Linked DNA regions of Homo sapiens. The protein of the gene in region 2 purifies or fractionates together with the protein of the main gene of each other region. This does not show direct contact. Each region holds a gene or a part of one and is shown on either strand. Other genes may lie near its edges. The genes, in order: CSNK2A1, YAF2, BCORL1 and MGA.

Evidence for each region.
Region 1: the proteins of YAF2 (region 2) and CSNK2A1 purify together in Homo sapiens (affinity purification with mass spectrometry; 8 studies listed by BioGRID and IntAct, with this or other methods). This does not show direct contact.
Region 3: the proteins of YAF2 (region 2) and BCORL1 purify together in Homo sapiens (affinity purification with mass spectrometry; 6 studies listed by BioGRID and IntAct, with this or other methods). This does not show direct contact.
Region 4: the proteins of YAF2 (region 2) and MGA purify together in Homo sapiens (affinity purification with mass spectrometry; 6 studies listed by BioGRID and IntAct, with this or other methods). This does not show direct contact.

The regions. Positions count from the first base shown.
Region 1 is NC_000020.11:540,554-548,418, reverse strand, and holds the start of CSNK2A1 (casein kinase II subunit alpha), read left to right. Parts: upstream 1-4,628; 5' UTR 4,629-4,747; intron 4,748-7,865. UniProt on the Homo sapiens protein: Catalytic subunit of a constitutively active serine/threonine-protein kinase complex that phosphorylates a large number of substrates containing acidic residues C-terminal to the phosphorylated serine or threonine.
Region 2 is NC_000012.12:42,227,989-42,235,693, forward strand, and holds part of YAF2 (YY1-associated factor 2), read right to left. Parts: exon of another isoform or gene 3,234-7,705; intron 1-3,233. UniProt on the Homo sapiens protein: Binds to MYC and inhibits MYC-mediated transactivation. Also binds to MYCN and enhances MYCN-dependent transcriptional activation. Increases calpain 2-mediated proteolysis of YY1 in vitro.
Region 3 is NC_000023.11:130,006,290-130,013,994, reverse strand, and holds part of BCORL1 (BCL-6 corepressor-like protein 1), read right to left. Parts: intron 3,488-7,705; exon of another isoform or gene 3,332-3,487; intron 1,418-3,331; coding exon 1,327-1,417; intron 1,046-1,326; coding exon 1-1,045. UniProt on the Homo sapiens protein: Transcriptional corepressor. May specifically inhibit gene expression when recruited to promoter regions by sequence-specific DNA-binding proteins such as BCL6.
Region 4 is NC_000015.10:41,747,253-41,754,957, forward strand, and holds part of MGA (MAX gene-associated protein), read left to right. Parts: intron 1-1,384; coding exon 1,385-1,675; intron 1,676-1,858; coding exon 1,859-3,363; coding exon of another isoform or gene 3,364-3,366; intron 3,367-7,184; coding exon 7,185-7,315; intron 7,316-7,705. UniProt on the Homo sapiens protein: Functions as a dual-specificity transcription factor, regulating the expression of both MAX-network and T-box family target genes. Functions as a repressor or an activator.

The DNA.
Region 1 (7,865 bases), on a different chromosome or scaffold from region 2:
TTGAGACAGAGTCGCGCTCTGTTGCCCAGGCTGGAGTGCAGTGGTGCAATCTCAGCTCACTGCAAGCTCTGCCTCCCGGGTTCACGCCATTCTCCTGCCTCAGCCTCCTGAGTAGCTGGGACTACAGGCACCCACCACCATGCCCGGCTAATTTTTGTATTTTTAGTAGAGACAAGTTTTCACCGTGTTAGCCAGGGTGGTCTCGATCTCCTGACCTTGTGATCCACCCGCCTTGGCCTCCCAAAGTGCTGGGATTACAGGCATCAGCCACCGCGCCCGGCCTACTAATTTTTATAAGACATAAAAATTTTTATTCTACTAATTTTTATAAGACATACATCTCCAGCTGAACGCAGTGGCTCATGCCTGTAATCCCAGGACTTTGGGAGGCCAAGACAGGCAATCACCTGAGGTCAGGAGTTCAAGACCAGCCTGGCCAACATGGTGAAATCCCATCTCTACTAAAAATACAAAAATTAGCTGGGCATGGTGGGCACCTGTAATCCCAGCTACTCGGGAGGTTGAGGCAGGAGAATCGCTTGAACCCAGAAGGCGGAGGTTGCAGTGAGCCAAGATGGCATCATTGGACTCCACCCTGGGCAACAAGAGTGAAACTCCATCTCAGAAAAAAAAAAGACACACATCTCCTAATTATTTAAATGTGCTTTTTAAATGTTTTCTGATCAAACTACTGTTTGTCTCTTGCTTTGTATCGTATAACAGAATGTCAGGGCCAGATTTCTATGTCAGGACATAATACTGTCTTCATTCTTTTCAATGGCTTTGTCACTTGCTGTGTGACATTGGACTAGTTGTTTAACCTCTCTGAGACTTGGTGTTCTTAATCTCTAAAATGGGGATTAAAAATGTACTGGCCACAGAGAGCTGTTGTGAGGATTAAATGAGTTAATAGATGTAAAGCATCTTGTACAGTGTCTGACACATATTAAGTGCTCAAAAATGTTAGTTCTCATTGCTGTGAATAGCCCCATGTCTGGCTGTACCATAATTTCTTTAACCAGTTCCATGCCTACGATTACTTATGTGATATAATGTTTGCAAAGGTGGCCACAACAATTCCACCCTCCTTATACACATGACTCCTTGCAGTATGATTTGATGTTTTTCTCATGAAGAGATGGAATCTATTTCTACTCTCCTTGAATCTGAGCTGGCCATATGACTGCCTTTGATCGATATAATACAGTGAAAATGATGCTATATCATTTCTAAGCCTAGATCTGAAGAGATCTTGCTGCTTTTGTTTTCTTTCTTCTGGGGGCCGTCATGTAAGTAAGCCTGAGTTAGCTTACTGAAGAAGCAACATGGAGGAGAACCAAGGCACTCAAGCCAACAACCCCAACCAACTGCCAGACATGTGAATGAGGCCATGGAGTTCTAACCAGTTTGCTGGCCTGTTCACTGACAGCAAACGTAAGAGTAAGCCAGGAAAGACCACTTGGAGCAGAAAAGAGCTGTCCTGGCTGAGACATGTCCAAACTGCCAATCCACACAAACATAAAATATTGTTGTTTTAAGCCACTATATTGTGGGGTGATTTTGTTAAGCAGCAATAGAAAGCAAATACACTTAGGTTCTTAGTGCATGATTAAAACTTTTGCCTGTAATTCTAGCACTTTGGGAGGCCAAGGCAGGGGAACTGCTTGAGCCTAGGAGTTCAAGACCAGCCCTGGCAACATAGCAAGACCCCATCTGTACAATAATAATAATAGTAATAATAATACTACTAAATTAAAAATGAGCCAGGCATGGTGGTGCATGTCTGTAGTCCTAGCTACTCAGGAGGCTAAGGTGGGAGGATCGCTTAAGCACAGGAGTTCAAGGTTATAATGAGCTGTGATCATGCCACTGCACTCCAGCCTGGACAACAGAGCAAGATCCTGTCTCAAAAGAGAGAGAGAGAGAGAGAGTCACTCTAATGGCCCAGGTTGAAATGCAAGCTCCATCTCCGGCATGTGACCTTGGGCATGGCCTGTGATCTCTGTGAACCTGAGTCTCCTCATCTGTACGGTGAGATACTTTTGGTTTCTACCTCATCAGGTTGACATGAGGATTAAGTGAGATGATGAACATTCAGTGTGTGGCACAGTGCAAGTACTCTCAACATCTTAACTCTTGCTTCTGCTGCTGTTGTTTGCAGAAAGACTAGCCTGAGAGGTGTGATGTGGGGGATCAGAGACAGTAAGAGTTAAGGATAAATGTTAAGTCTACAACTAGGTGAACACTTGGGATGGGAAGCCTCTTGAGACCGGAGACCTACATGAGGCTGGCGTAGTAGACGGCAGGAGTTGGGTTTCAATTATGTCCTGCATGAGTATGAGGGTTGTATATGTGTGCCCAGGTGAGCCCTCTGAATGAAGTCATGGATAGAGGCCAGAACTAGGAAGAAGAATGAAGAACTAATGCTGTGAGAGAGGCTGAGATTGGAAAGGCATGAAGGCTAAGCAATGGGAAATATCCTCACTACACTCAGATGAAAACCCAGCTTCCTTATCATGACCTGAATGCCCTGCCCACCTCTCCCACCATATTTCTTCCTCTTCTTCCCTTTATTTGCAGTGCTTCAGCCACCATGGCCTCCTTCTTCAAACTTGTGATGCTCTTTCCTGCCTTGGGACGTTTGCACTTACTGTTTCCTTCTCAAAGGGACCTTCTGAACCACTCAAGCTAAAGCTCTATACTTCACAGCTACTTATCTTTTCCTTTCGTAGCACTTATTGCTACCTGAAATTACTTTGTTTATGCATTTGTTTACCTGTGCATTACTTGCTTCTCACTTTAGAAGGTAAGCTCCACCAGTGAGCAACTGGTGTATGTCTTCCTCATAACACATCCCCAGTACCTAGCACAGTGTCTGGCTCATAGCAAATGATGAATTGTTGTGAGTTAAACAAATGTGAATACAGTTGGGAAAAACAAAGCCACAAGAGCCAAAAAGATACGTTCGAGAGGTAGGTAGAAGGGTATCATTTCCTGGAAGATGGCTTCCCAGAAACTTTGGGATTATCTTGTATAACCTCCTCAGTCCACAAGTGGGGAAATTGAGGCCCAGTTACAGGACACTGAGAGAAAAACTGTTGTGGGTTCCCAGGCAATTGGGATCAGATGTCACAAGCTGTCTAGCAGATGAGGTCCAGAGAAGGCCACAGCCACCTCCCTGAGGCCATCACTATAAGTCTGCAGCCACCACCAGCCCTAACCCCACATGGGGAAGAGGTGCCTCTTTGGGAGCAGAGGTGCTAGTCAGCTGACAAACTGTGAAGGCAGGGCTGTGGAGGGTGGAGAGGCCCATTCCTGAGACAACCAGCTATTCTGAGACAGTTAGGGATAATGGTTGGTACTGAAAGAACCTGGCCTCCTCACCCTCGTTCCAGTGCTCACACCTCTGTCCCACCAGAGGTGAGACTAATACTTGAACTCCTTTCAGCAACTCTTAGACGCTTCAGCTTTTATCAGGGCCTGCAAAGGAGAGGTTGATCATCAGATGGAGCCCTGTCCACTGGGGGCTCCCAGTCTGATGGAGGAGACAGACTGAGGTCCTCAGGTTACTGACTGATAGTGTCTGGGTTGGAGGGAGTTAAACAGAGAGGAGACCCCTAGAGGAAAGGATCCCTGAATTAGTTCAATCGGCATACAGAAATTATCCAGTCCATGAGGTGACAGTAAGAGAAGTAACTGCCAGTGTAAAGGGAGGGAGGCAACACAGCTAAGTTCCAGGAATTGTTTGCAGTCTTGTGGGTGGAATCTTCCGGAATTTGAGAAGAGAGTGGCAGAATAGGAGGCTGGAAAGGAGGGTTTGGCCAAATTATGGAGGACTCTGAATGTCAAGTGAAGAGTTTGGGCTATCTTTGGTGCATAAAGAGGTCCATGGGAGATTTTTGACCATAGGGAGACCATGATGAGCTCTGCATGGTAGAAAGTGCTTTGTGGCTGTTTTGGGGAGGTAGCTCGGGCAAGGAGAGCAGGGGTGGGAGGCAGATAGAAGGAAAAAAAAACACTGTATTTTGGACGCACAGCTCTTGGCAGGACTCCTGTAGGAGGAAGGAATTGGGCCTTGGTCTCTTGAGAGCTAGTATCCTCACTTCTCAGACTCCTGCGCCATGCCCTTCCTAGGGTCCAACTTTCATTCACTTCTTCCGAACTCCAAGTTTGAATAGAAAGTGTTGCTGAAACCCTAATTTAAAACGAGGGGTCAGAGCAAAAGAGACTTCAGCTCCCAGAATGCTTGGCTCTACAGCTCTGCAGGTCGCGCATGGTTCTTTTCAAGAAAGGGGGGCCAGCTGGGTGAAGTGTGGGAAACCTGGGTACCGCCATCTTAACTTGGGTCAAACCAACTGTTCACCTAATGGGAGGTTCGTGTTCTCTCTGTTGTCACTTGTTAACACTATTGAAATAAAATGCGCTTAACTATTGCAAGTCTCCTTATTCTGCTTTGCGTTGGGGATTCCTTCCATTTTGCACCCTAGGCCAGAACTGAATCCCTAAGGTTACAATAGGACATCCCAGCATGGCCGCATTCAGAGAGATTCCTCTGGGGGCGGAGTCGGAAGCTGTCTCGCCCCGCCTCCTGGTAGGAGGGGGTTTCCGCTTCCGGCAGCAGCGGCTGCAGCCTCGCTCTGGTCCCTGCGGCTGGCGGCCGAGCCGTGTGTCTCCTCCTCCATCGCCGCCATATTGTCTGTGTGAGCAGAGGGGAGAGCGGCCGCCGCCGCTGCCGCTTCCACCACAGGTACCTAGGGAGCAGCCAGGCGAGGTCGTTGGCGGGTGGGGTGGGCCCAGGATAGGGCAGCGGAGCGCGGCCGACCCTCACGCTTCCAGCAGACTCCTGAGCGGCCCGTCGCCTTCCCCTGCCCCCACCTTCACACATAAACCAAGCGAGGCCCCTGCAGCCCATCGGGGAGGCCCAGGGGCCACCCCTCAGGGCGGAGGGCGAGGTTTGGGGGCAGAGGCCGATGTGAGGGTGGGAACCGGCTGCCGGAGTCCAGCTTATTGCAGAGGAGAGGACTGAACTGGGTGGGGACTAGGGGACAACTTGGAGGAGGGGGTCGTCAGAGGGGGAAGGGAACTTGAGGGGTGGGGCCGCAGGGGGGTGCTGGGGGAGGGTGCGGAGGGAGTGGTGCCTGCTGGGTAGTGTGCAGTGAACCCTCCCGCGAAACTGGGCAGCTGGAGTAGGGGCCTTCTTAGGGTCCCTCTGGGCGGGGCTGAGCTTCCCACCTGCAGAGTGGGTGCGAGGTGGAGAGAACCCCAGGCGGGGTTGCTGGGGCGAAAGGGGGAAGGGACCAAGACGTGGGGCAGAACGTCTGGAGTTGGAGTTAAGGACTAGTTAGGAGCCTGGATAGAAAAAGAGGTATGGAGAGAAAGCTTGGCTAAGGGTATACATATGTTGGTGACCTTTTGAAAGAGTAGGACTTTTCAATTTTGTTTTTCGTTGTGTGTTTTTTGCAGTGTTGGAACATTGCTAGATTAAGCAGGTGATGGGTGGAGCTTCTGTAGTTTGTTTTGGGGAAGCAGAGTCAGGGTCAGGAGAAGTTGCATCTTGGCTATTGCTTTGTGTGGAGGAAAGAGTTTTGAAAAGAAGGTGGCAAATTATTTGGGAAGACTTGATTACTTTTCAGCTGTTTAATTCTACGAGAATGGGACATGGGGAGAGGAAATGAAAACTAAGAAGAGAGGCCGGGCGTGTGGCTCACGCCTGTAATCCCAGCACTCTGGGAGGCCGAGGCGGGTGGATCACGAGGTCAGGAGTTCGAGACCAGCCTGACCAACACGGTGAAACCCCGTCTGTACTAAAAATGCAAATATCAGCCGGGCTTGGTGGCGCGCGCCTGTAATCCCAGCTACTCGGGAGGCTAAGGCAGGAGAATCGCTTGAACCTGGGAGGCGGAGGTGGCAGTGAGCTGAGATCCGCCACTGCACTCCAGCCTGGGCGACAGAGCGAGACTCCGCCTCAAAAAGAAAAAAGAAAACTAAGAAGGGAAGATTTTTCCAAGAATTGGAGACTTCATTCCATCTGAGGAGTGCAGTGTAGGCCCAGTGGTTAAAAACCAGACTGCCTAGGTTCTCAAATATCAGGGCCATTGCTACTTAGCTGTGTGACCTAAACTCTCTAAGCCTCAGTTTTCCCGTCTGTAAAAGGGGGATGATGGTATTTTCTAGCTTGTGAGTTTACGGAGAAGAGTAAATAAGACAATTTGTGTCAAGTGCTTACTACAGTGTCTGGCAGGTAGTAAGTGTAGTAAGTAGCTTTTACCTGTCACTGTAAAGGGACTAGCTGGTATATTTGGGGCTCTTCTGTTCTAAGTAAAATTTATAGTCAAGAATTTGACTGTAGACAGGGCTTTAGAGTAGTATCTTTGTAGTTGTTGTAGGGTTTTGTTGTAAGTCATTTGGCTTTACTGGCTTGGTGGACCTGGGGCTGAAAGTCCAGTACCAATACTAGTTCTCCTCCGTGGTATTCTCAAAAGTTCACCTGCAGTCTTAGCAGGGCATGTTTTTGTCCTTCTGTGACTTTGAAATACTTGGCTTTGGTTTGCTATTGCGGGAGGGTGTATGACTTGAAGAAAGAATGCAAGATTGGAAATTTGCTTAGATTGATTAATCAACTGATTATACAGTTAGGTCCCCGTGAGGTGACTTTTCTTTAAAAATAAAAAAAAGCCTAGTTATGTACTCCTTTGTGGAATACAGAGAAGAGAAATACACATTTAAGGAGGAGCATGGGTTAGTTTCTAAGTAGTTATGGGTGAAGTGCCTTGCAATTTGAGGATGAAACAGGTGGCAACTCCTTTTCCATACTGCGCGTCCTTTTCCTACTCACTCATCCAGAGTGAGTCCTTGTTTTTACTATTGTCTCTATCTCTGAACATACATCTTTGTGTCACATAAGTAAAGACATATGTATGTATGTATATATACTTTACTTCACATAAGTAAAATATATACATCTTTACTTCACACTCTGTTAAAGAAAGGGATGATTTTCTTTAGGAAGTGAGTTTAAACCCTTCCATAGGACTTGGATTTGTAGTAGGCAGAATTACATCTCCCTCTTCCCAAGGTGCCATACCTTGATCCCCAGAATCTGTAGCTATCCTGTGTTACATGGCAAAAGGAACTTGGCAGGTGTAATTAAGGTTAAGAATCTTAAAATAGAAAAATTATCCTGGATTTTCTGGGTGGGCCGAATCTAGTCACTTAAGTCCTTAAAAGCAGAGAACTTTCTCCAACTGGGATCAGAGAAATGGGCAGAAAAGGAAATCAGAGATTTGAAGCATGAGAAGGACTCCATTTGCCTTTGCTAGAGAGGACCACATGGAAAGTTTATCAGAAGGAATGTGGGCAGCCTCTAGTGGCAAAGACCAGTCCCTGGCTGACAACCAGAAAGAAATGGGGACCTCAGTTGTGCAACCAGAAGGAACCTGAATTTGGTCAACAACCTGATTGAGCTTGGAAGTGAATTTCCCAGTTTCCACCAAGGAATGCAACCTTGAGACACCTTGATTTTTGGCCTCGTGAGACCCTAAGCAAAAGACCTAGCTAGCCAAGCCCACCCAACTTCTGACCTACAATAACTGTGAGATAACAAATTTGTGTTATTTTTAGCTACTACATTTGTGGTAATTTGTTATGGCAGCAGTAGAACACTAGTATAGATTTTGGTACCAGGAGTGGGGTACTATTACCTAAAAATGAAAGTGGCAGTAGATAAAGGTTAGAATTGTTTTGAGGGGCATGATAGAAAAGGCCTGGAACACAGGAGGATCGCTTGAGCCCAGGAAGTCAAGGCTGCAGTGAGCGGTAATGGCACCACTGCACTCCAGCCTGGGTGGCAGAGTGAGACCCTGTCA
Region 2 (7,705 bases):
GCCTGGCCAGCCGCCCCGTCCAGGAGGGAGGTGGGGGGTCAGCCCTCCGCCCGGCCAGCCGCCCCGTCTGGGAGGTGAGGGGCGCCTCTGCCCAGCCGCCCCTACTGGGAAGTGAGGAGCCCCTCTGCCCGGCCAGCCGCCCCGTCCGGGAGGGAGGTGGGGGGGGTCGGCCCCCCGCCCGGCCAGCCGCCCCGTCCGGGAGGGAGGTGGGGGGGTCGGCCCCCCGCCCGGCCAGCCGCCCCGTCCTGGAGGGAGGTGGGGGTGTCGGCCCCCCGCCCGCGCCAGCCGCCCCGTCCGGGAGGGAGGTGGGGGGGGGTCAGCCCCCCTGCCCGGCCAGCCACCCCATCCGGGAGGTGAGGGGCGCCTCTGCCCGGCCGCCCCTACTGGGAAGTGAGGAGCCTCTCTGCCCGGCCAGCCGCCCCGTCCGGGAGGGAGGTGGGGGGGTCAGCCCCCCGCCTGGCCAGCCGCCCCGTCCGGGAGGGAGGTGGGGGGGGGGGGTCAGCCCCCCCGCCTGGCCAGCCGCCCCGTCCGGGAGGTGAGGGGTGCCTCTGCCCGGCCGCCCCTACTGGGAAGTGAGGAGCCCCTCTGCCCGGCCAGCCGCCCCGTCAGGGAGGGAGGTGGGGGTGTCAGCCCCCCGCCCGGCCAGCCGCCCCGTCCGGGAGGGAGGTGGGGGGGGGGTCAGCCCCCCTGCCCGGCCAGCCGCCCCGTCCGGGAGGTGAGGGGCGCCTCTGCCCGGCCGCCCCTACTGGGAAGTGAGGAGCCCCTCTGCCCGGCCAGCCGCCCCGTCCGGGAGGGAGGTTGGGGGGTCAGCCCCCCGCCCGGCCAGCCGCCCCGTCCGGGAGGTGAGGGGCGCCTCTGCCCGGCCACCCCTACTGGGAAGTGAGGAGCCCCTCTGCCCGGCCACCACCCCGTCTGGGAGGTGTGCCCAACAGCTCATTGAGAACGGGCCATGATGACAATGGCGGCTTTGTGGAATAGAAAGGCGGGAAAGGTGGGGAAAAGATTGAGAAATCGGATGGTTGCCGTGTCTGTGTAGAAAGAAGTAGACATGGGAGACTTTTCATTTTGTTCTGCACTAAGAAAAATTCCTCTGCCTTGGGATCCTGTTGATCTGTGACCTTACCCCCAACCCTGTGCTCTCTGAAACATGTGCTGTGTCCACTCAGGGTTAAATGGATTAAGGGCGGTGCAAGATGTGCTTTGTTAAACAGATGCTTGAAGGCAGCATGCTCGTTAAGAGTCATCACCAATCCCTAATCTCAAGTAATCAGGGACACAAACACTGCGGAAGGCCGCAGGGTCCTCTGCCTAGGAAAACCAGAGACCTTTGTTCACTTGTTTATCTGCTGACCTTCCCTCCACTATTGTCCCATGACCCTGCCAAATCCCCCTCTGTGAGAAACACCCAAGAATTATCAATAAAAAAATAAATTAAAAAAAAAAAAAAACATTTAAATATCTACAATACTTCAGGTATTTTATTAGCTTCTGGGAATACCAAAGTGAATAAGACGGTCTCTGCCCTGTAGGGCAGATAAGTGTCTAGACAATTATACTACAATATATTTATTCTCCAGGAATAATTACATATACATACAGCCATGCATCATTTAATGACGGATATGTTCTGAAAAATGCATCGTTAGGTGATTTCATTGTCAGAACATCATAGAATGTATTTATACAAACCTAGATGGTACAGCCTACTACATACCTAGGCTATATGGTAGAGCCTATTGCTCTGAAGCTACAGGTGTACAGGATGTTACTATACTGAATGTTGCAGGTAATTGTAACACCATGGTAAGTATTTGTATCTAAACATAGAAAAAGTAGAGTAAAAATATAGTATCATTTTATGGGACTGTATATGTGGTCCCCCACTCACCAAAAATGTCATTATGGAGTGCATGACTGACTCTACATACATAGAATCAATATGATACCAAGGGGTGGAGGGATGGTAATCCTAGAGGGCTTCTTTGAAAAGTACCATATGGTGGCTTACGCCTGCAATCACAGCATTTTGGGAGGCTGAGGCAGGCGGATCACGAGGTCAGGAGATGGAGACCATCCTGGCCAACATGGTGAAACCCTGTCTCTACTAAAAATAAAAAAATTAGCTAGGTATGGTGGCACACGTCTGTAATCCCAGCTACTCAGGAGGCTGAGGCAGGAGAATCGCTCAAATCTGGGAGGCGGAGATTGCAGTGAGCCAAGATCGCGCTACTGCACTCCAGCCTGGCGACAGAGCAAGACTCCTTCAAGAAAGAAAAGAAAGAGAAGAAAGAGAAGAAAGAGAAGAAAGAAAGAAAGAGAAAGAAAAAGTACCATATGATAAAAATAATTCAGTGCTGACACAGCACAGGATTGGGATAAGCAGCAGGAAATGAAGCTAGGAAGGTAGTTTAGGGATAGATTATTATTATGGCCTTGAACACTATCCTAAGGATCTCAGCCTTTATTCAGCAGCCACTAATAGGACTCAATTTTTTTTTTAAATATACAGGGACCAACATAATCACATAGGTTTCAAAAAAGATAATGAAGATCATGTTAGTAGCATTCCAAAGGAGAGACCAATTTGTCCAATAGTTCATGACAGAAGTGATATGGGCTTCTGAACTGTAACTACATAAAAGGAAAAAGGATAGATTTAAGAGACAATCCAGAGAAAGGACATGAAGGAGGACTACAAATTAGAATCAAAGCTGAGACAATGACAGTTTCTAGCTGAGGTTCCAGAAAGGAGTTTATGCCACATACAAAGTAAAGAATATACAGATGCCAAGTTTGGGGAGGCAGAAATGGGTTTCAGAGATATACACAGAAATCTATGAAAAAGGAGTCTTAGAGACATGAAGGAAGTAGAGTTTCAATTTAAAAAGGGCCAAGAACATCAAATACTTTGGAGGCGACATCAACAGATGAGTGAGATTGGGCCACTGAGTTAAACAACTAGGATATTAGTTATCAGGCCTCACACTATAAAGGAAATAAAAAGAATACCTGCTGAAGTAAAGCCATTGCATGTAGAAACCCAAGCCAATAAACTCTAGACCAGCAGTTCACAAACTTTTTGGTCTTAGGATCATTTACACTCTTAAAATTTAAGAGTTTTTGTTTTTTGTTTTTCTTAATGTGGGTCATCTATCAATGTTTACTATATTAGAAATAAAAACTGATAAAAATCTAAATATATTAGTTCATTTAAAAAATAAATACATCACATATTAAATGACATATTTTTATTTTAAAAACTTATTATTTTCCAAAACAAAGATATTTTGTATGAAGAGTGGCATCGTATATTTTTGCAAACCTCTAACATCTGGTTAGTAGAAGACACCTGGATTGTCACATCTATCTCAGCATTCAATTTGTTGCAATATGTTGTTTTGGTCCAAAAATATTAAGAAAATCTGGACTCTCACAGATATACAGTTGAAAAGAGGTAAGTAGTTGAATAGCATTTTCAGATAACTATAGGTGTTATTCTTTGATACTACATAAAAACACAGTTGTTTCTCAAAGGTTAGTTGCAATATGAAATCTGAAACCACATCAATGAAGTTTTCAGTGTTCCCTTAAAATCTGTTGGTATTTTGTACTTTGATGGATTACCCATTACAGTTTTGTAAAATCATACATCGGTAACTAGGAACCATTTGTTTGCTGAGTTATGCGTAGCTTCCAAATGCTGACACATTTCATGGTGAAATATCAGAAATTATATTCATTGATACCACCACTAATCTTCTCAGAAAAGTCTTTATACACAGAAACTCTAAAGCTCATTGTTGCTACAAATTTTCAAAAATTCTAATTTTCACTTGAATGATTATCACTGGCAACATATAGTATCAAGTGTTTTCCTTGAAGTGATATATTTTTTGAATATATTCATTTTCAAGAAAATATATGCTAAATATCCAAGTCTGAATAACTATGGTATTTCAGGTAGTCTTTCAAGTAAAAATGATGCTCTATGACAAAAAGACTAGCTCTGCTTGCAAGACAAACTACACATGTGCTTTCCCTTAACCACTGTACTTTGGTATACAGTAGAAGTGCTTTATGTGTAGTTCCCATTTGGTCAGACAGAATATTTTTAAAAATATGAGATGTAATAAAATTAGTAAATTTTTCTGCTTCAAGGATATTCTTAATTCAAACTGACATTATTCTTACTGCATGCATGTACATGGTGGTGAATATTACAATGAAGATAGCAATTTGGTGCCACTGCTTTGATTCATGCTAAGGTGCTGGCAGTTTTACCCATCACTGCCTCTGCACCATCACAGTGAAAAAGGCAAATAACATCTTCAAATTATTATAAAAACAGTGTGAACCTCATAGAAAGCTTCAACTAAAAAGATCTCAGGGACTCTCAGTGTCCCTCAGACTACACTTTGAAAACCACTCTGATATCCAGACTACACAAACACTAATAATCACTTGTAAAATTTACCCATATACAATTAACCAGTGTGAGTCCTCTTACAGGACAAAAAACAAACAAGTAAGAAATCTCCTAGAATAAGGAGTCTCTGAACAACTAAATGGTTGCTAGAAAGGCTCCTCAGATAGACAGGAGGCGGCTCAGGAACCATGCATTTCTTTAAAAAGGACTTATGTAGATGGTCCTCAATTTTTTTCTCCCATTCCTACACCAAAAGTCTAGAAGAATCAGTGCCAAACCTCAAATTTGAAGACATAAAGCAAGTATGACAAGAAAACAACGATGCTGAAAAGATTTCTACCAGATGATAGTTGGTTTAAGCTTCTTTCAGAATGTGGATTTTATAGCTTACTTTTAAAAGAAGCTGAAATAACTCACTCTTTTTACCTAACCATAATAATAATACTGTGTTCAGTTATAAACAACATATATTTTTAATGAAGAAGTTCCACCTCTTCAGCCTACACATAAAGGAAAGATCTACTAACACTAAACCTCACATATAGAGCTTGGTACAGTTAAAGCGGTTCTAATTTGCAAAACTGTAAAATTTTAAAGAAACAAAAAAATCCATTTTGCTCACCACTGTATGTCTAGTATCCAACTCAGCCCTTAAATAAGATGCTCAATAAACATTTGCTGAATGCTGAATATTGAAATGGTTGATATGAAATGAGATATGAACCCAGGTTACCAAAATCATACTAGTGTAACATCTAGCACTCTTTCTACTATGTGAAATCTTTTTTATAGCTCTCTAAAATAACACCTATGAGAAACCTAAAGGACTGTTATAATATCCTCTAACAAAATGTAACATTACCTGTTACATTTGAAAGCCTGGTATGAACCATTTAGACCACAGTTTGAAACCCAAACCAATAATTCTATCATTTTCATTTCTAAATATTTGCTATCTGAATTAAGCAATATTAAGTAACTGTCCACTACTAGATGAAGTACCAATAAGACACCAGTCTTAAATTAATCATCACACATTGATTATCACCCTCATACAGACTATCCTTAATATTTAATATTTCATTTTCTCTGATGACTCAGAATTTTGTTTTTTTGAGACAAGGTCTCACTCTGTTGCCCAGGCTGGAGTGCAGTGGTATGATCACAGCTCACTGCAACCTCGAACTCTGGGGCTCAAGGGATCCTCCCACTTCAGCCTCCTGAGTAGCTGGGACCACAGGCATGCACCACCACACCCAGCTAATTTTTTTAATTTTTAGTAGAGACGAGATCTCACTGTGTTGCCCAGGTTGGTCTCAAACTCCTGGCCTCAAGAAATCCTCCTGTCTCAGCCTCCCAAGGTGCTGGGCTTACAGGTGTGGGCCACTGGGCCAGCCAAGAATGATCCTTAATTTCCTAAAGTTTCTTGCATTTATATTTGGGACATTTCTTGCCTTATAAGAATCTTCAGATAGGCTGGGCACAGTGTCTCACTCCTGTAATCCCAGCACTTTGGGAAGCCGACGCAGACGGATCACCTGAGGTCAGGAGTTTGAGACCAGCCTGGCCAGCATAGTGAAACCCCATCTCTACTAAAAATACAAAAATTAGCCTGGTGTGGTGGCGGGCACCTGTAATCCCAGCTACCACAGAGGCTGAGGCATGAGAATTGCTTGAACCTGGGAGGTGGAGGTTGCAGTGAGCCGAGGTCACGCCACTGTACTCCAGCCTGGGCGACAGAGCAAGACTGTCTCAAATTCTGCCTCAAAAAAAAAAAGAGAAAAGAAAAGAAAAGAAAAGAAAAGAAAAGAAAAGAAAGAAAAGAAACTTCAGATATAAAGACTGTGCAGCATCTTGAAAATAATGTGTCACCGTGGCATTTTGTTTCCTTTTAAAAAATTTCCTGTCAGTTTGACATTTACTACTGTTTCTCTCACAAAAGCACAATGTAAAAAATTTTGGAGTGAGGGGCTGAAAAATGACCTGTTGGGTATAACGTTCACCATTTGGGTAATGGGTACACTGGAATCCCAATCCCACCACTCTGCAATATACCCAAGTAACAAACATGCACATGTACCCCAAAATCTAAAATAAAATTAAAACTTGAGGAACTGAAGCTACAACAAATCATTTTATTTTGAAATACATGCCATGAATGTAACTTCGTTCTCTAGAAAGACATGACCTACCATGGATATAGCCAAAGGAAATGGGCTTCTGTTGCATAAAGAATTTGAACTTAATATTATTTAAAGAAAAAAAATTATATTGCCAATAAAGACTTTAAAGGGGCCGAATGGTGGCTCATTCCTATAATCCCAGTTCTTTGGGAGGCCAAGGTAGGAGGATCACTTGAGCTCAAGAGTTTGAGACTAGCCTAGGCAACATAGAGATCCCCCATCTCTACAAAAAATAAGAAAATTAGCCACACATGGTGGTGTGCATCTGTAGTTTCAGCTACTTGGGAGGCTGAGGTGGGAGGATTCCTTGAACCTGGGAGTTCGAGGCTGCAGTGAGCCTGGATGATGCCACTGCAACCCAGCCTGGGCAACAGAATGAGATCTTATCTCAAAAAAGAAAAAAGAAAAAAAGAAGACTTCAAAGGTAGAACAAGGACTCAATCTTCTCTGCAGGTCTAAAAAGAAAAAAGTTTTTCAAATGTCTAGAATGGCTTAGACTTGGCCTAACATTTGGCAATGAGGCAGAATCAGTTCAAAGGTCAGTCTGACCCAAAGGATTCAAATCCCATCTGTGCGTCACACAAACAAATCATTAGCAAACTGCATCCTTCTGCTCTGCAGCTATCCAGTCTTGGCTTTAGTACTTGCCAACCTTACTCTGGAAATTACCCTGTTCATTAATAAGTCAATTATGGAGAATTATTTCTTCCAACTACTGAAACTTTTGCTTCTCAACACCGTTCTGCAGTCCTTTAATCTTGTTTTTTTAACATTACCAGAGAGGAAAAATATTAATATTCTGTGATGCAATCAATATCTTCTCTAGTAACAATACCCTGTTCCACACTGTTCTATACAAACACAGATTCTACCCTGAATTTCAGAAACCACTAGGAAAATAACAGATAACAGAGAAATTAGAGCTCTTAGGTTTAACTTAGAGCCAAAATCAAAAGAGAAGAGAATTCAGAGAGAGGAAGGAAGAAGCTGAGAGGGTCGTGGTGTAGAACACTTACTTTCAGGAACACAGTGTCCCTTAGATTTCTGGTGAGTTGCCCAGAGCCTCTTCAGTTTCAATCCAAATGACAATGCTTCT
Region 3 (7,705 bases), on a different chromosome or scaffold from region 2:
AGGTGGGAATGGCAGCTGGCGTGGCAGCAGGCATGGGTGTAGGGGCTGGAGTAAAGATGGGGGCTGGGGTGGGTGCAGGCACCGGTGTAGGAGCAAAGGCGGGGATGAGGGTGGGGGTAGAAGGTGGGCCGGAAGATGGGGTTGGAGTGGGCATGGGCACAGACGGAGGGGCAGGGGCCGCTGGAGGCGTGGATGCTGGCATGGGAGCCAGAACCGGAGTGGGGACGGGAGCGAGAACCAAGGTCGGAGCTGAAGGGGGCACAGGAGCCTGGATGAGAGCCAAGGGAGGAGCTGAAACTGGGACTGAAAGCGGGGCAGGAGCTGGAGCCGACAAGGGAACCGGGCCTGAAGGGGGAGCAGAAGCTGGCACAGGCACCAAGACTGAGGCCGAAACAGAAAGGGGGTTCGAGTCAGAGATGAGCGTGGGCACTGACGGTGGCGCTGGAGCCAGAGCCGGGACAGGTGCTAAGGGAGGGGAAGGAGCTGGAACCGAAGTGGCAACTTGGACTGGAACAAGCCCTGAATGGGGGACTGGGGCAGGGACGGAGAGGGGAACCTGGAATGCATCTGGAACAGAGTGGGGCACAGAGGCCGAACCGGGAGCAGGGGGACAGATAGGGGCTGGCAGAGGACTGAAGTTAGTGGTAACCAGGGGCAGGGTCCCCTCCACAGGGACTCCAGTTCCCAGAGTTGCCAAAATGAAAGTATTCTTCTCTCCAACACCTTGCCGAGAGTCCAAAGCCTTTACTCCGGCGGGTGAGCAGTCAACCTGTTTGCTCATTTGGGTGTTGAGTGGAGTCCAGGAGCAGTCGGCCCTGCTGTTGCTGGCCTCGGCGCTGTCAGATGCGGGAAGCTTGAGCCCGTCTCCTGGGCTGCTCAGGGGCACCAAGAGGCCCTCAGCCTCTGCCACGTTCCCAGCGTAGTCCATTTTTGGCTGGGGATCGTCAGGCTTGTCTTCTGACTTGTGCCCAAGTTTTTCTGTAGCACTGCCATCTGGGTCTGCCCCCCGGGCATTGCTGCCACTTCCAACTGCCGTGAGCTCCACCTGCAACGACAGGATAGCATGCACATCTCAGCCAGCTCCCTGCAGATGGTGCAAGTGTCCTGAGGCCCGAGAGGCAACTGCTGGTCTTCTCTGCAACTCGACCAACCAGGTCTCGGAAGACGCAGAGGGCAGCCAGCCAATTTGTGTCCCACCAATACCAACTCCTGGGAGAGACCCTGTCCCTTCCTGCCCACTTCCTGGGATGGCAGGCTGGGCACACCTCCCAGGCAGCTCAGCTCCATCCTTTGGTGGACAGCACGTGGCTCCATAAAGCCTCTTACCTTGGAAAAACTGCTGCTGACACAAAACTCCTGAGATCCAAAGTGCTGGCAGTCGCCTGTCGTTGACTCCTCATCAGAAAGAGGTGCTCTTCTAGCATGGAAGATACAACCAGAGAAGGGACATGAGGCCCAGGATTTGAGCCAACACCACCTTCCCCAGAATGCCTCCTGCCTGCCTGGGTCCCCATAAAACCTTCCTACCTCACTTCCTGTAGTAACTTGTGAGGGGGATTACAAGGAACTGGGGGTTCTTGGTTACAAAGCGGAGGCGCCACACCTAGCTTTGCAAGTCCCTACCAGAGCCCAGTCTGACTAGACCCCCCTCTTTGGACTGTTTACCCTGTTTTCTAGGGCTCTTGCCAGGAGTGTGGACACCCTAGCACTTTTACCTTTTCCCTGGAGCTTACCTGCCAAAATGACCATCCAGGATGTACAGGGCATTGCTCAAAGGGGAGACATGAGAACCACTGAATGCCTCAAAAGGCATGCAAAACCCATTTTTCTTTTAAATACAATCTTATTTTAAGTCTCTAAGGGCAGCTGGCTGAAAGTGTCATATGGGTAATCCTCTTCTAAAACAAATAAACCCCTGTTGTGTTTTCAGGTCTAAATCTGAATCGTCACCTATTCACCTCCTGTCTTGCCTAGAGCAGAGACATGTTTATTAGCACTGGTGATGATACCACTTGGAGGCCACCAGGTCACTGGGTGCTGAGAGGCATTTTAAGAATACTACTTTTTTCCCTCCAGGAGACACTGCCCCCTTTTTTCTAGAGTTCTAGGCAACACCCTCCCTTCTACCCTCCTTCTATCCTTGCCTACATCCTATCTCCTGCCAGCACCCCTCCCTGCCCCCCCATCAGTCTCCCAGCACCACTTTGTTCTCTCCTGTCCGAAAAGCCTCAGACCCCAAATTCAGGTTCATATGTCCCAGAGAAAAGGGCTCAAGGCCAGAGAGCTGGGTCCCAAAGGAGGAAAACTCAAATGCATCTCCCCCTGTTTAAAGTCTTCTCCAAATTTCAGGTAAGCATCATAGAAAATTGTACATCCTGACAAAAAAAAAAAGGGAGAGGGTGGCATCAGACTGCCTCCCTCCCCTGGTATTTTAAGTACAGCAAGAACTATTAGGCCAGGCATGGTGGCTCACACCTGTAATCCCAGCACTTTGGGAGGCCAGCTGAGGTGGGTGCATCACTGAGGTCAGGAGTTCAATATCAGCCTGGCCATCATGGTAAAACTCCATATCTACTAAAAAATACAAAAATTAGCCAGGCGTGATGGCAGGCACCTGTAATCCCAGCTACTTGGGAGGCTGAGGCAGGAGAATCGCTTGAGTCTGGGAGGCGGAGGTTGCAGTGAGCCGAGATCCCACCACTGCACTTCAACCTGGGCGACAGAGTGAGACCCTGTCTCAAAACAACAACAACAACAACCAAAAAAAACTATTGCCCCCTGCCCTTGGGAGCTGTGGGTGGGAGTGGCCAAGGAGGAGGTTTAGATTAAAGAATAAAACCCCAACATAGACGCTGCAGTGCGTTTCCTGGGTGGGCAAGGCACAGGACTGCTCTGTGTGCCCCTGGGGAAATACACTGTGCCTGAGGTGACCTCCCTTCTTTCTTTCCTTTTTTCCCTCTTTTTTTTTTTTTTTTTTTTTTTTTTTTTTTTTAGATTGAATCTCGCTCTGTCACCCAGGCTGGAGTGCAGTGGCACGATCTCGATCTCGGCTCACTGCAACCTCCGCCTCCTGGAATCAGGCAATTCTCCTGCCTCAGCCTCCAGCATAGCCAGAATTATAGGCATGCTCCACCACGCCTGGCTAATTTTTGCCTCCCTTCTTTAGAGGCTCACCCCAAGCTCCTGAAGACAGCCCTGAAGAAGCCAGCTCTCGCCTCCCCAGTCACCCTAGCCAAAGGGCAGTCAGGTTGCTGGAGCCAACCCCAACAAGAAGGGGGAGGGCCCTGCTAACTTCCTCCCTCCCACTGAAACAGGGACTCCAAAATTGTACCTGGGGCAAGAGAAGCAAAAAAGGCAAGGGGGATCACCACGGGCCTCTCCCCATCTTTTCAGGGATCCAGAAGGGGCTAACCGAGGGGGAAAGGCTTGTTCCCTTTAAAAGGCAGTTGGACTGGCAGAAGTGGGAGGGCTCCACTGCTGGAAGTGACTGTTGGTGACAAACAGAAATGACTGTAAGGAGAGGCAAGGGCTTTAGATGCAGTCAGGGTGGTCTCGGGGAAGGGGAGGGAGGGAGGGCCTGAAGGAAAGGGAAAACATACTTTCACATCAACTCCTAAGAGACCACAAAAGCGAGACCTATGCCCAGCCTTGGGCCAGGGGGAAGCGTGTTCCCACTAGACTTGCCAGGGACGGTTTTAGGGGGAGTACTCAAGGGGAAACAAGCAGCACTTCCCCCAAGCAACCCCACATGGGAAGGTGCTATTTATTTACATTCTTTCCCCTCCTGGCCATACAAAAGGGAGTGGGCTGCATCCTCATTCTCCCCTTGCAAGCTCCCACCCTGCCTGAAATGACACCTCGAAAGCAGAATCCCTGCCGTCGAAGGCAGCTGCCAGAGAACCACAGAACCAGGCCAAGCAACAGCAGTCCTGGCCACTCCAGCCATACCCACACCTGAGTCCAGCCCCGAAGGCGCTGCAAAATGTCATGCAGCCGTGTTTCAAATCCTCTGAGAAGAGGGGTGGGCAGAGCTAAGCAAACATTAACTTGCTCCATTGAGAGAAGAGCCTGGGACAGGAGTAACTTGCAGGGGAGGGGGCCCGGGAAGAGCTGGGTCAACCAGGCAAGGTTATGAGGGTGCAGCTGGCGGAGGCGGGCGGCAGGAGGGAACAGAGGTCATAGCAGGCTTCAGTCAGGACTGAAAATCAATCCTGCTGTTTCTTCCCACCACAGAGGAGGCAGAGCTGTTATGTTCAAGGCTTTGTGGAACTTAAACCAGAAATGGCCATGACCCCTCTGGGCCATTTCCCTAATTATTAAGGGCTAGCACCACTGTCAAACCGGACCCTCTTCAGTTCCTGCTGGGCCCAGACTACCCGTAAGAGAAATATACCACCCAGCACACACCAGGCTCCTTACCTTCCAGTCCTGGGAGACTTTCCCTGGTTCGAGTCCCACAGTACCCCAAGATTGCCTTCATTCCAACTTGGACCTTCCCCAAACACACTGTGCTTTTTTTTTTTTTTTTTCTTTCTTTTAGACAGAGTTTCTCTCTTGTTGCCCAGGCTGGAGGAGTGCAATGGTGCGATCTCAGCTCACTGCAACCTCTGCCTCCCGGGCTCACGCCTGAGCCTCCCGAGTAGCTGGGATTACAGGCATGCGCCACCACGCCCAGCTAAGTTTTGTGTTTTTAGTAGAGACGGGGTTTCTCCGTGTTGGTCAGGCTGGTCTCGAACTCCCGACCTCAGGTGATCCACCTGCCTCGGCCTCCCAAAGTGCTGGGATTATAGGCGTGAGTCACCGTGCCCAGCCACACTGTGCTCTTATTGTCTCAGGGAAATACCAGCTCTCACCTCAAACTCCTACTCATTCCTCAAGCCTGGGCTCAAATGCCACTGCCTCTGGGAAGCCTTTCCTTATTCTCCCACCAGGAGGTTTGTCAATCTTGCATCTGGACTCCCACTGGACCCGGACATGCAATTCTAGGGCACTCACCACCAATGTACTAGAACTACTGGTTTGCTCTCATTATGTTGAATAAATGTTTGTTGAATGAAGGCATGAATTAATCCTAGAAGGGATGCAAGCAGGCAAGCAGACACATTTAGCTGTAGGTTTGCCTAGAGACGGCCACCTGGGGCCAGCCGCAAGCCCATGCCTCCTGTTCTACAGTCCTCAATTGCAGCTGCCAAAGCTGGCAGGCCTCTAAAACATCACTTTAAGAGTTGAACCCCAGGCACAGCTTTGTACCCCAAATTCCTAAATTCTACAAGTTGTAAAGGGCCAAGGAAAATGATTTTTAAATAAGGTGAGATTACATTTTGGAAACCAGTGATAGCATGGTCTAGGCTGTAGCGGCCTAGACTGTAGCAAGAAGGTGACAATAAAGGGTGGATGAGATCAAAAGTGACAACACTTAAAAGGTCATCTTAGGCCGGGCGTGGTGGCTCACATCTGTAATCTCAACACTTTGGGAGGCTGAGGCAGGTGGATCACCAGAGGTCGGGAGTTCGAGACCAGCATGACCAACATGGAGAAAACCCGTCTCTACTAAAAATACAAAATTAGCCGGGTGTGGTGGCGCATGCCTGTAATCCCAGCTACTCGGGAGGCTGAGGCAGGAGAATCGTTTGAACCCGGGAGGCGGAGGTTGCGGTGAGCTCAGATCTCACCATTGCACTCCAGCCTGGGCAACAAGAGCTAAACTCTGTCTCAAAAAAAAAAAAAAAATGTCCTCTTAAGCACTAGGCACAGGTTTAGAAGGAAGGAAAATCTGGCTGGGTGCAGTGGCTCACACCTGTAATCCCAGCACTTTTGGAGGCCAAGGCAGACAGACTGAGATCAGGAGTTTGAGACCAGCCTGGGTGACATGGTGAAACCCTGTCTCTACTAAAAATACAAAAATTAGCCAGGCATGGTGGTGCACACCTGTAATCCTAGTTACTCAGGAGGCTGATGCACGAGAATCACTTGAACCCAGGCAGCGGAGGTTGCAGTGAGCCGAGATCGTGCCACTACACTCCAGCCTGAGCAACAGAGCAAGACTCCATCTCAAAAACAAAAAACAAGATGGAGGGAAAATCAGATTTTGAGCCTACTTCCTGCTCCTTTCTTGGCAGGGATTTACAGTAGATGGTGAACTAAGGTAACTTGTCTATTGGCCTCTTTTATTATTATTATTTAATTTTATTGTTTTTGAGACGGAGTCCTGCTCTGTCACCCCGGTTGGAGTGCAGTGGTGCAATCTCGGCTCACTGCAACCTCCACCTCTCGGGTTCAACTGATTGTCTTGCCTCAGTCTCCCCAGTAGCTGGGATTACAGGCATACACCACCATGCCTGGCTAATTTTTTTGTATTTTTAGTAGAGACGGGGTTTCGCCATGTTGGCCAGGCTGGTCTTGAACTCCTGACCTCAGGTGATCCACCCGCCTCGGCCTCCCAAAGTGCTGGGATTACAGGCATAAGCCACAGCACCCGGCCCCGCTGGTCTTTTGAAGGCTCTAGTCCAGATTTCTGCATCAAAGTCTCAACTACTTATAACTAGGTCAACATGACCTGCCAATGAATACTTACGCAAATCATTATCATCACCCTGCCTTTCCCTAGATCATCTCTTAGTGATCATCTGAGGACATGCTTCATATGTAAAGGAAAACACTTTTCTTCCTGAGCACCTAAGAATTTCATCTCATTTTCCATGGTCTTGACTCTTTTTATCCTAAAATTAAATTCCTTTTAAGCCCATCTCTAACTTGTTCCTCAGTACAGAGAACATTAAGCTATCAGGCACTAATGGCTTAAGAAAATAAAAAGGTCTATTCTGCTAACCTTGACCTCAGACAAGTATATACTTCTCCAGTTAGGAACAGAAGAACAAAGTAGATAAACACAAAGACTTCCATTCCTTTTCCCTTCAAATTACCAATACTCCCCTATATGCGCACACACATTTCTAAGATTTACCCAAGAAACGTCAGATCTTGAATCCCAGGGAAAGCCATATTGTTCTGTGTCTTGGTGATTTATCTGATGTATATTTGAATTTAAACAGTCAATGGATTGAAACAACAAAAAAACACCAGCAAGCATGAAGGAGCAGTGCCTTCTCTAAAAATGAGAGAGGCGGCCGAGTGCAGTGGCTCACACCTGTAATCCCAGCACTTTGGGAGGCCGAGGTGAGTGGATCATGAGGTCAGGAGTTCGAGACCAGCCTGGCCAACATAGTAAAACTCCGTCTCTACTAAAAATACAAAAATTGGCCAGGTGTGGTGGCATACGCCTGTAGCCCCAGACTCTGTCTCAAAATAAATAAATCAATAAATAAAAAATAAAAACGGCCGGGCAAGGTGGCTCACACCTGTAATCCCAGCACTTTGGGAGGCCGAGGCGGGCGGATCACGAGGTCAGGAGATTGAGACCATCCTGGCTAACATGGTGAAACCCCGTCTCTACTAAAAATACAAAAAATTAGCCGGGCTTGGTGGCGGCACCTGTAGTCCCAGCTACTCGGGAGGCTGAGGCAGGAGAATGGCGTGAACCCGGGAGGCAGAGCTTGCAGTGAGCCGAGATCGCGCCACTGCACTCCAGCCTGGGCGACAGAGTGAGACTCCACCTCAAAAAAAAAAAAAAAGAAAATGAGAGAGGCACTGCAGCCATCACACACAGCTCTTTGACCAAGGGTTATGAAAGCCAAATATAAATTCT
Region 4 (7,705 bases), on a different chromosome or scaffold from region 2:
ACAAACCTTTAAGCTTTGCATATTTGTTAGTGAATTTTAAAAACCAAAAGCCCTTTATAAACCAAGGATTTTTAGTTCTTTATCTTCCTCAGGTGGTATAAGCTTAGAAATTGACCCATAACTCTAGTAAGTGTTATGAGCTTTAATTTTAAAGTTAAATTGTGCAGAATCTGGATTTTATTTAAAAACATAAGAGGCCAGGCACATTGGCTCATACCTATAATCCCAACATTTTAGGAGGCCAAGGCAGGAGGATTGCTTGAGCCCCAGGGGTTCCAGACCAGCCTGGGCAACATAGCAAACTCCATCTCCACAAAAAAAAAAAAAAGCGTGCACCTGTGGTCCCAGCTACTTGGGAGGCTGAGCCTGGGAGTTCGAGGTGGCAGTGAGCTGTGATCCCACCACTGCACTCTAGCCTGGGTGACAGAGTGCGATGCTGTCTCAAAAGAATGAAGTTGAAGCATAATTTTATCATGAATGATCCCTTTAACAGGAATCCAGATTTAGAGAGATAACCATGTTTTTCTTTAGGCAAAAGTATTATCTCTTTAAATGTGCCTCTTGACAGTTGATACTCTATTTTTTACCATTCTAAATGTAAAGCTCCATAATGTCTGGCTGTTCTCAGCCATAAATAGTGTATTATGAAACTACAGAATTTCAGCAACTTTATAATCCAAATTAGACGTTATTTGAAGCAAGGTCAGATTCTGTGCCTTAATGACTGGGCATGGTGGCTCATGGCTGCAGTCCCAGCACTTTGGAAGGCCGAGATGGCAGGATCACTTGAGGCCAGGAGTTTGAGACTAGCTTGAGCAACAAAGCAAGACCCTGTCTCTGCAAAGAATAACATAATTAGCCAGGTGTAGTGACACATCCCTGTAGTCCCAGTTACTTGGAAGGCTGAGGCAGGAGGATCTCTTGAACCAAGGAGTTTGAGACTGCAGTGAGCTATGATTGAGCTACTGCACTGAAGGTGACAAGTGCAACCCTGCCTCTTTAAAAAAAAAAAAATATAGACTGGGCGCGGTGGCTCACGCCTGTAATCTCAGCACTTTGGGAGGCCGAGAACGGCAGATCACTTGAGGTCAGGGGTTTGAGACCAGCCTCACCAACATGGTGAAACCCTGTCTCTACCCAAAAATACAGAAATAAGCCAGGTGTGCTGGTGCACACCTGTAGTCGCAGCTACTCGGTATGCTGAAGTGGAAGAATCACTTGAACTAGGGAGGTGCGGAGGTTGTAGTCAGTCGAGGTTGTGTCATTGCACTCCAGCCTGAGCAACAAAGCAAGACTGTGTCTTAAAAAATATTATGAATACTTTTTTTTCCTACGTGTGTTAAAGGGGAATTTGGGTACCATGTTTCCATTTCCTGTTTTTCAGAAAATGCTGCTCAAATTCCAGTGGCTACTCCACAGGTCTCTCCTAACACAGTGAAACGTGCTGGACCTCGATTGTTGTTGATTCCAGTGCAGCAGGGTTCTCCTACTCTTAGACCTGTCTCAAACACACAACTTCAGGGACATCGGATGGTCTTGCAGCCTGTTAGGAGTCCAAGTGGAATGAACTTATTCAGGCACCCTAATGGGCAGATTGTCCAGCTTCTACCTTTGCATCAGCTTCGAGGCTCTAATACCCAGCCCAACTTACAGCCTGTCATGTTTCGGAACCCAGGTATAAAGTTCTTTTTTATGAACTTTTCTTTTGTTGAATCACTTGGCCATATGGTATGTTAATACACCAAGATTGTTTTTCTTCATCTCTTAAGAGTTACTTTTCCAAAAAGAAAAGCAAACATTGGAAGTCTTGATATGGGCAGTCATGATTTAAAAATTTCTCTCTTATTTTTTAAACCAGGGTCTGTGATGGGAATCCGGTTACCTGCTCCTTCCAAACCCTCTGAGACTCCGCCATCTTCCACTTCGTCCTCTGCTTTCTCTGTCATGAATCCTGTAATTCAAGCTGTTGGGTCTTCTTCAGCAGTGAATGTTATCACTCAGGCACCATCATTGCTTTCCTCTGGAGCTAGTTTTGTGTCTCAGGCTGGTACATTGACCCTGAGGATTTCTCCTCCTGAACCACAAAGCTTTGCAAGTAAAACAGGCTCTGAAACCAAAATAACTTATAGCTCAGGAGGACAGCCTGTTGGTACAGCCAGTCTTATTCCTCTCCAGTCTGGTAGTTTTGCCTTGTTACAGCTCCCAGGACAAAAGCCTGTTCCTAGCTCCATTCTTCAGCATGTTGCTTCCCTTCAGATGAAGAGAGAATCTCAGAATCCAGACCAGAAAGATGAAACAAACTCAATAAAAAGAGAGCAAGAAACGAAGAAGGTTCTACAGTCAGAAGGAGAGGCTGTAGACCCTGAGGCTAATGTAATAAAACAAAACTCAGGAGCTGCTACCTCAGAAGAAACTCTGAATGATTCCTTGGAAGATAGGGGTGATCATTTGGATGAAGAATGCCTTCCAGAAGAAGGTTGTGCAACTGTCAAACCATCTGAGCATTCCTGTATCACTGGGTCACATACAGATCAAGATTATAAAGATGTTAATGAAGAATATGGGGCTAGGAATCGTAAGAGTTCCAAAGAAAAAGTGGCTGTTCTGGAAGTTAGGACCATTTCTGAAAAAGCCAGTAATAAGACAGTCCAAAATTTAAGTAAAGTACAGCATCAAAAACTTGGTGATGTGAAGGTGGAACAGCAGAAAGGATTTGACAATCCAGAAGAAAACTCAAGTGAATTTCCAGTCACCTTTAAGGAAGAAAGTAAATTTGAATTGTCAGGAAGCAAAGTTATGGAGCAGCAATCTAATCTACAGCCAGAGGCCAAAGAGAAGGAATGTGGAGACTCTCTGGAGAAAGACAGGGAAAGATGGAGAAAACATCTGAAGGGCCCCTTAACCAGGAAATGTGTTGGAGCTTCACAGGAATGTAAGAAAGAGGCAGACGAGCAGTTAATTAAAGAAACAAAGACATGTCAGGAAAATTCAGATGTGTTTCAGCAAGAACAAGGCATCTCTGACTTACTTGGAAAAAGTGGAATTACTGAAGATGCCAGAGTTTTGAAAACTGAATGTGATTCTTGGAGTAGGATTTCTAATCCTTCAGCCTTCTCCATTGTTCCTAGGAGAGCTGCAAAAAGCAGCAGAGGGAATGGACATTTTCAGGGTCACTTACTGCTACCTGGAGAACAGATACAACCAAAGCAAGAGAAGAAGGGTGGGAGAAGCAGTGCTGACTTCACTGTTTTGGATTTGGAAGAAGATGATGAAGATGATAATGAGAAAACTGATGATTCTATTGATGAAATTGTGGATGTTGTTTCTGACTACCAGAGTGAGGAGGTTGATGATGTAGAAAAGGTGGTGAGCCCATTTTTGTTGTGACTGAAACCTAAAGGATTTAAATGATTTATTAAAGACAGAAGCTTTTTCAGAAGAGCACTAAGGCATAATACATTTAATTGGATGCCTAGGTTTAAGATTATGACTTAAATGGCTTAGTAGTTCTTTAGGCTGTGTCAATCAAGCATCATTTATTGAGCTTTTATTCTTTGAGACTTGTCTGGTTTTATGGGAAGGCTGGCTTAAATATTTGGGGGATAGGTGCTTGAGAGTCCCTACCGAGTTAGATTTTTAAAATCCCGAAACCACTACTCCCATTTGACCTCAGTCAATTTCTATGACGTTTTCTATGTGAGGTGGTTGTAGCTTCTCTGGTAGATGTTAATCAGAAACTGGGAATGGGTGACCTTAGAACTAGAGGAGAACTTATTCACTTGCATATAGAGAGATGTTTTTGTTTTTGGAGAAAAACTGGAAAATACCATCATATTCTAGTACCATTTTGCCTTGAGTTGCTTTTATATCCAAAAATTAAATATTTAGTCTCTGGAATTTATATTCTAGACTTTGGTCTTCGTCCTTTGTAATATGACCTTTATGGCCTATTTTTATTATTTTCCTGAAGTTTTTTTTATAGGATTCCTATTTAGGGTTGTTGTATTTACTTAAATAAGTAACTGTCAGGTATTGATACAGTGCAGGAGTTGTACAAACGTTTTCTGTAAAAGGCCAGATAGTAAATAGTTTTAGACTTTGCAGAGAGCTAGATGGCTCTCTGTTGCGACTAATTGACTGCTGTTGTAGTATAAAAGCAGCTGTATTCCATTAAAACTTTAGTAAAAAAGTCCAGGTGCGGTGGCTCACACCCATAATCCCAGCACTTTGGGAGGCCGAGGTGGGTGGATCACCTGACGTCAGGAGTTTGAGACTAGTCTGGCCAACATGACAAAACCCCGTGTCTACTAAAAATACAAAAAATTAGCCAGGTGTGGTGATGGGTGCCTGTAATCCCAGTACTCAGAACGCTGAGGCAGGAGAATCGCTTGAACCCGGGAGGCTGAGGTTGCAGTGAGCCCAGATCGCGCCATTGCACTCCAGCCTGGGCGACAAGAACAAAACTCTGTCTCGGGTTAAAAAAAAAAAAGAAGTTGTTAGTGGGCTGTGGTTTGCTGACCCCTGACATAAGGTCTGATGTAAAACATGGGGAGATCATAACCAGCTGCCTGTGGAGTGCCCTAAAATCTAAACTGTGTCCTTCTTTTCAGGAGCAGATGACAGCCGTCTGCACTGATTGTCATACAACTGCTTGTTTTACAATCTCACTTCCTTGAGATTCATTCTGCCTCTGTGTTATCTGGTCCTTTTCTGTTATTGCTTAACTGCTTTATGCACATAAAATAAGACAAAAAGATTACTGTTTTAAAAATCTAAAATGTTGAAATATTTTATTTTAGCGATGGAGTCTTACTCTGTCGCCCAGGCTGGAGTGCAGTGGTGCGAACTCAGCTCACTGCAACCTCCACCTCTGGGGCTCAAGCAATTCTCCTGCTTCAGCCTCCTGAGTAGCTGAGATTACAGGAGCCTGCCACCGCCCCAGCTAATTTTTGTATTTACGTAGAGATGGGGTTTCACCATCTTGGCCAGGCTGGTCTTAATGTTCTTATATTGGTTATTTGAGTACCTCCATTGTCTCATTTATAAAGGAGGATCTTGCTCTAAAATTGGATGATTCTGTATTCATTTGACTTATACCTTCTCTCCATAGCCTAATCTTTTTCAAGAATGGATGTAAATTCATTGACTTTAGGAGTTATATTGCTGATTTTTTTGTGTTTTTTGCAGTCTCACACTGTAAGTCAGCCCAAGTTAACATGAGACCAAAAAACAGTTCAACTTTAAAACCAGTGAAAACTATTACTATTAGTGGAACTTACATAATAGAACCTTTAAAGTTTTTTTTTTTTTTTTTTTTTTTTTAACAGAGTCTCGCTTTGTCGCCCAGGCTGGAGTGCAGTGGTGCCATCTCGGCTCACTGCATCCTCTGCCTTCTCGGTTCAAGCGATTCTTCTGCCTCAGCCTCCCGAGTAGCTTGGGATTACAGGTGGGCACCACCATGCCCAGCTAATTTTTGTATTTTTTTAGTAAAGACAGGGTTTCACCATATTGGCCAGGCTGGTCTTGAACTCCTGACCTCAGGTGATCCACCCACGTTGGCCTCCCAAAAGTGCTGGGATTACAGGCATGAGCAACTGCCTCCGGCCTGAAGTATCTTAATCATACAAGGAGGCATTGCTTGAATGTACTAATAGGGAATTTGACAAGCAAACAAGTTATACTGACTTTTTTTTTAAAGGTCATATTAAGTGATCTCTAAAATCTAAAGTCTACACTGTTTTTATTTGCACATCTCACACCTACGTTACCTTTATGATTAGCATTGGAATACTGTGAGGGAAGTTGTAAATAGCTTCTTTAATTTAAATCTTCCTTGTGGAAGTTATTGGAATATTATTTAGAAATACTGCAGTTATGCCAGGCGCTGTAGCTCTCGCCTGTAATTCCAACACTTTGGGAGGCTGAGGCAGGCGGATCACCTGAGGTCAGGAGTTTGAGACCAGCCTGGCCAACATGGTGAAACCCCATCTCTACTAACAATACACAAATTAGCCAGGTGTGGTGGCACAGTCCTAGAGTCCCAACTACTCGGGAGGCTGAAGCAGGAGAATCGTTTGAATCCCGGGAGGTGGGCTCATTTACTATGTTTCTGGCATAGTAAACACTTTTTTTTTTTTTTTGAGGGGGCACAGAAATGTTGCAAGCAAATACTATTTGTAAAGGTGGACTTAAAAAGATCTGCTTATCCTATATATCCACATAACTCTAGTGTTACATAAAATATTTAGCAAGTTTCTGTGACAGGTGCTCAGTAAACACTTTGACTCCTTTTTTGGTATAATAAGGAAATACAGCAATCGTGGGCTTTTTTGAAACCTGAAATTCCTTACAAGCTCTCATTTTGTGGTTTTGAGAGAGTTGCAGGACTAGGCTGTATCCTATTTCTATACCTGCCTGTGTATGCTAATGTGTGTTGATTTGTGGGCATCTGATAGGATGTTGGTCATGAAGCCCCCTTAAAGTGGCACTTGAATTTTTCTCCTTTCTATATTTCTTTCACCAAATTTTATTTTACTGTTATTTAATCTTAAGATTTATGAAACCTTAATATATCTGTGCCTGAATTTTGTCCACTAGAAATAACACTGAAGCATCAGTGCAGTCCTTTGAGGATGCTGTTAAGTTTAATTATGTCTGTTTATTTATTTTTTATTTAATTTGTTTTGAGACAGTCTTACTCTTGTCTCCCAGGCTGGTGTGCAGTGGTGCAGTCTTGGGTCACTGCAGCCTCGAACTCCTGGCCTCAAGCAATCCTCCCACCTCAGGTTTCCGAGTAGCTGTAATTATAGGCGAGCACCACCATGTCTGGCTAATTTTTGTATTTTTTGTAGAGACAGGGTTTTGCCATGTTGCCCAGGCTGGTTTTGCACTCCTGAGCTCAAAACGATCCACCTGCCTGGGCCTCCCAAAGTGCTGGATTATAGGTGTGAGCCACCACGGCTCACATATATATATGACTTATAGTTCTTGATTGTTAATTCTAATGATATGTTATCTTTCTGTCTTAATTCCTTATTATGACTAACAATCTTAGGATTATCAGTACTCATGATATAACATGAATGTCTGGCATTAGTTGGTTTTATAAGGGGAACAAACATTTGAAAAGTTTAGGTGTGCTTGCCACTCAATACATTATTTACTTTTATAATGATGTATTTCAGAATAACTGTGTAGAATACATTGAGGATGATGAGGAGCACGTGGACATTGAGACTGTAGAAGAGCTCTCAGAGGAAATTAATGTTGCTCACCTGAAGACCACAGCGGCCCACACACAGTCATTCAAACAGCCGTAAGTCTTATTTCTCTTTGGATTGTTGTTTTTGTAGTTTTGTAACCAGAAACAAAATGAGATGTTCTGTTCAGGAGCTCTGGGTAACTCATCTGGTTCCTTCTTCCTCTAGCTTTTTTTCTGATTAGTATAGATGAGGAGAGGAACTAGAATTTGGGTAATTAATTTTCTTTGGTCGTTGGTAGGAGGCAGTGTGTAAATGTGAATAACATGCTTTTGGAGCCCGATAGACTGGTATTATAAAATATTAGTTTTGCTAGTTTGTAGGTATTTAACCTTGGGCAAATCTTTAATCTCTCTGAACCTCAGATTCTTTACCTATGAAATGAGGAAAATGCCCCCATTTGAAGTGTTAAATGAGGTAGTATGTGCAACTAGCATAATAACTGA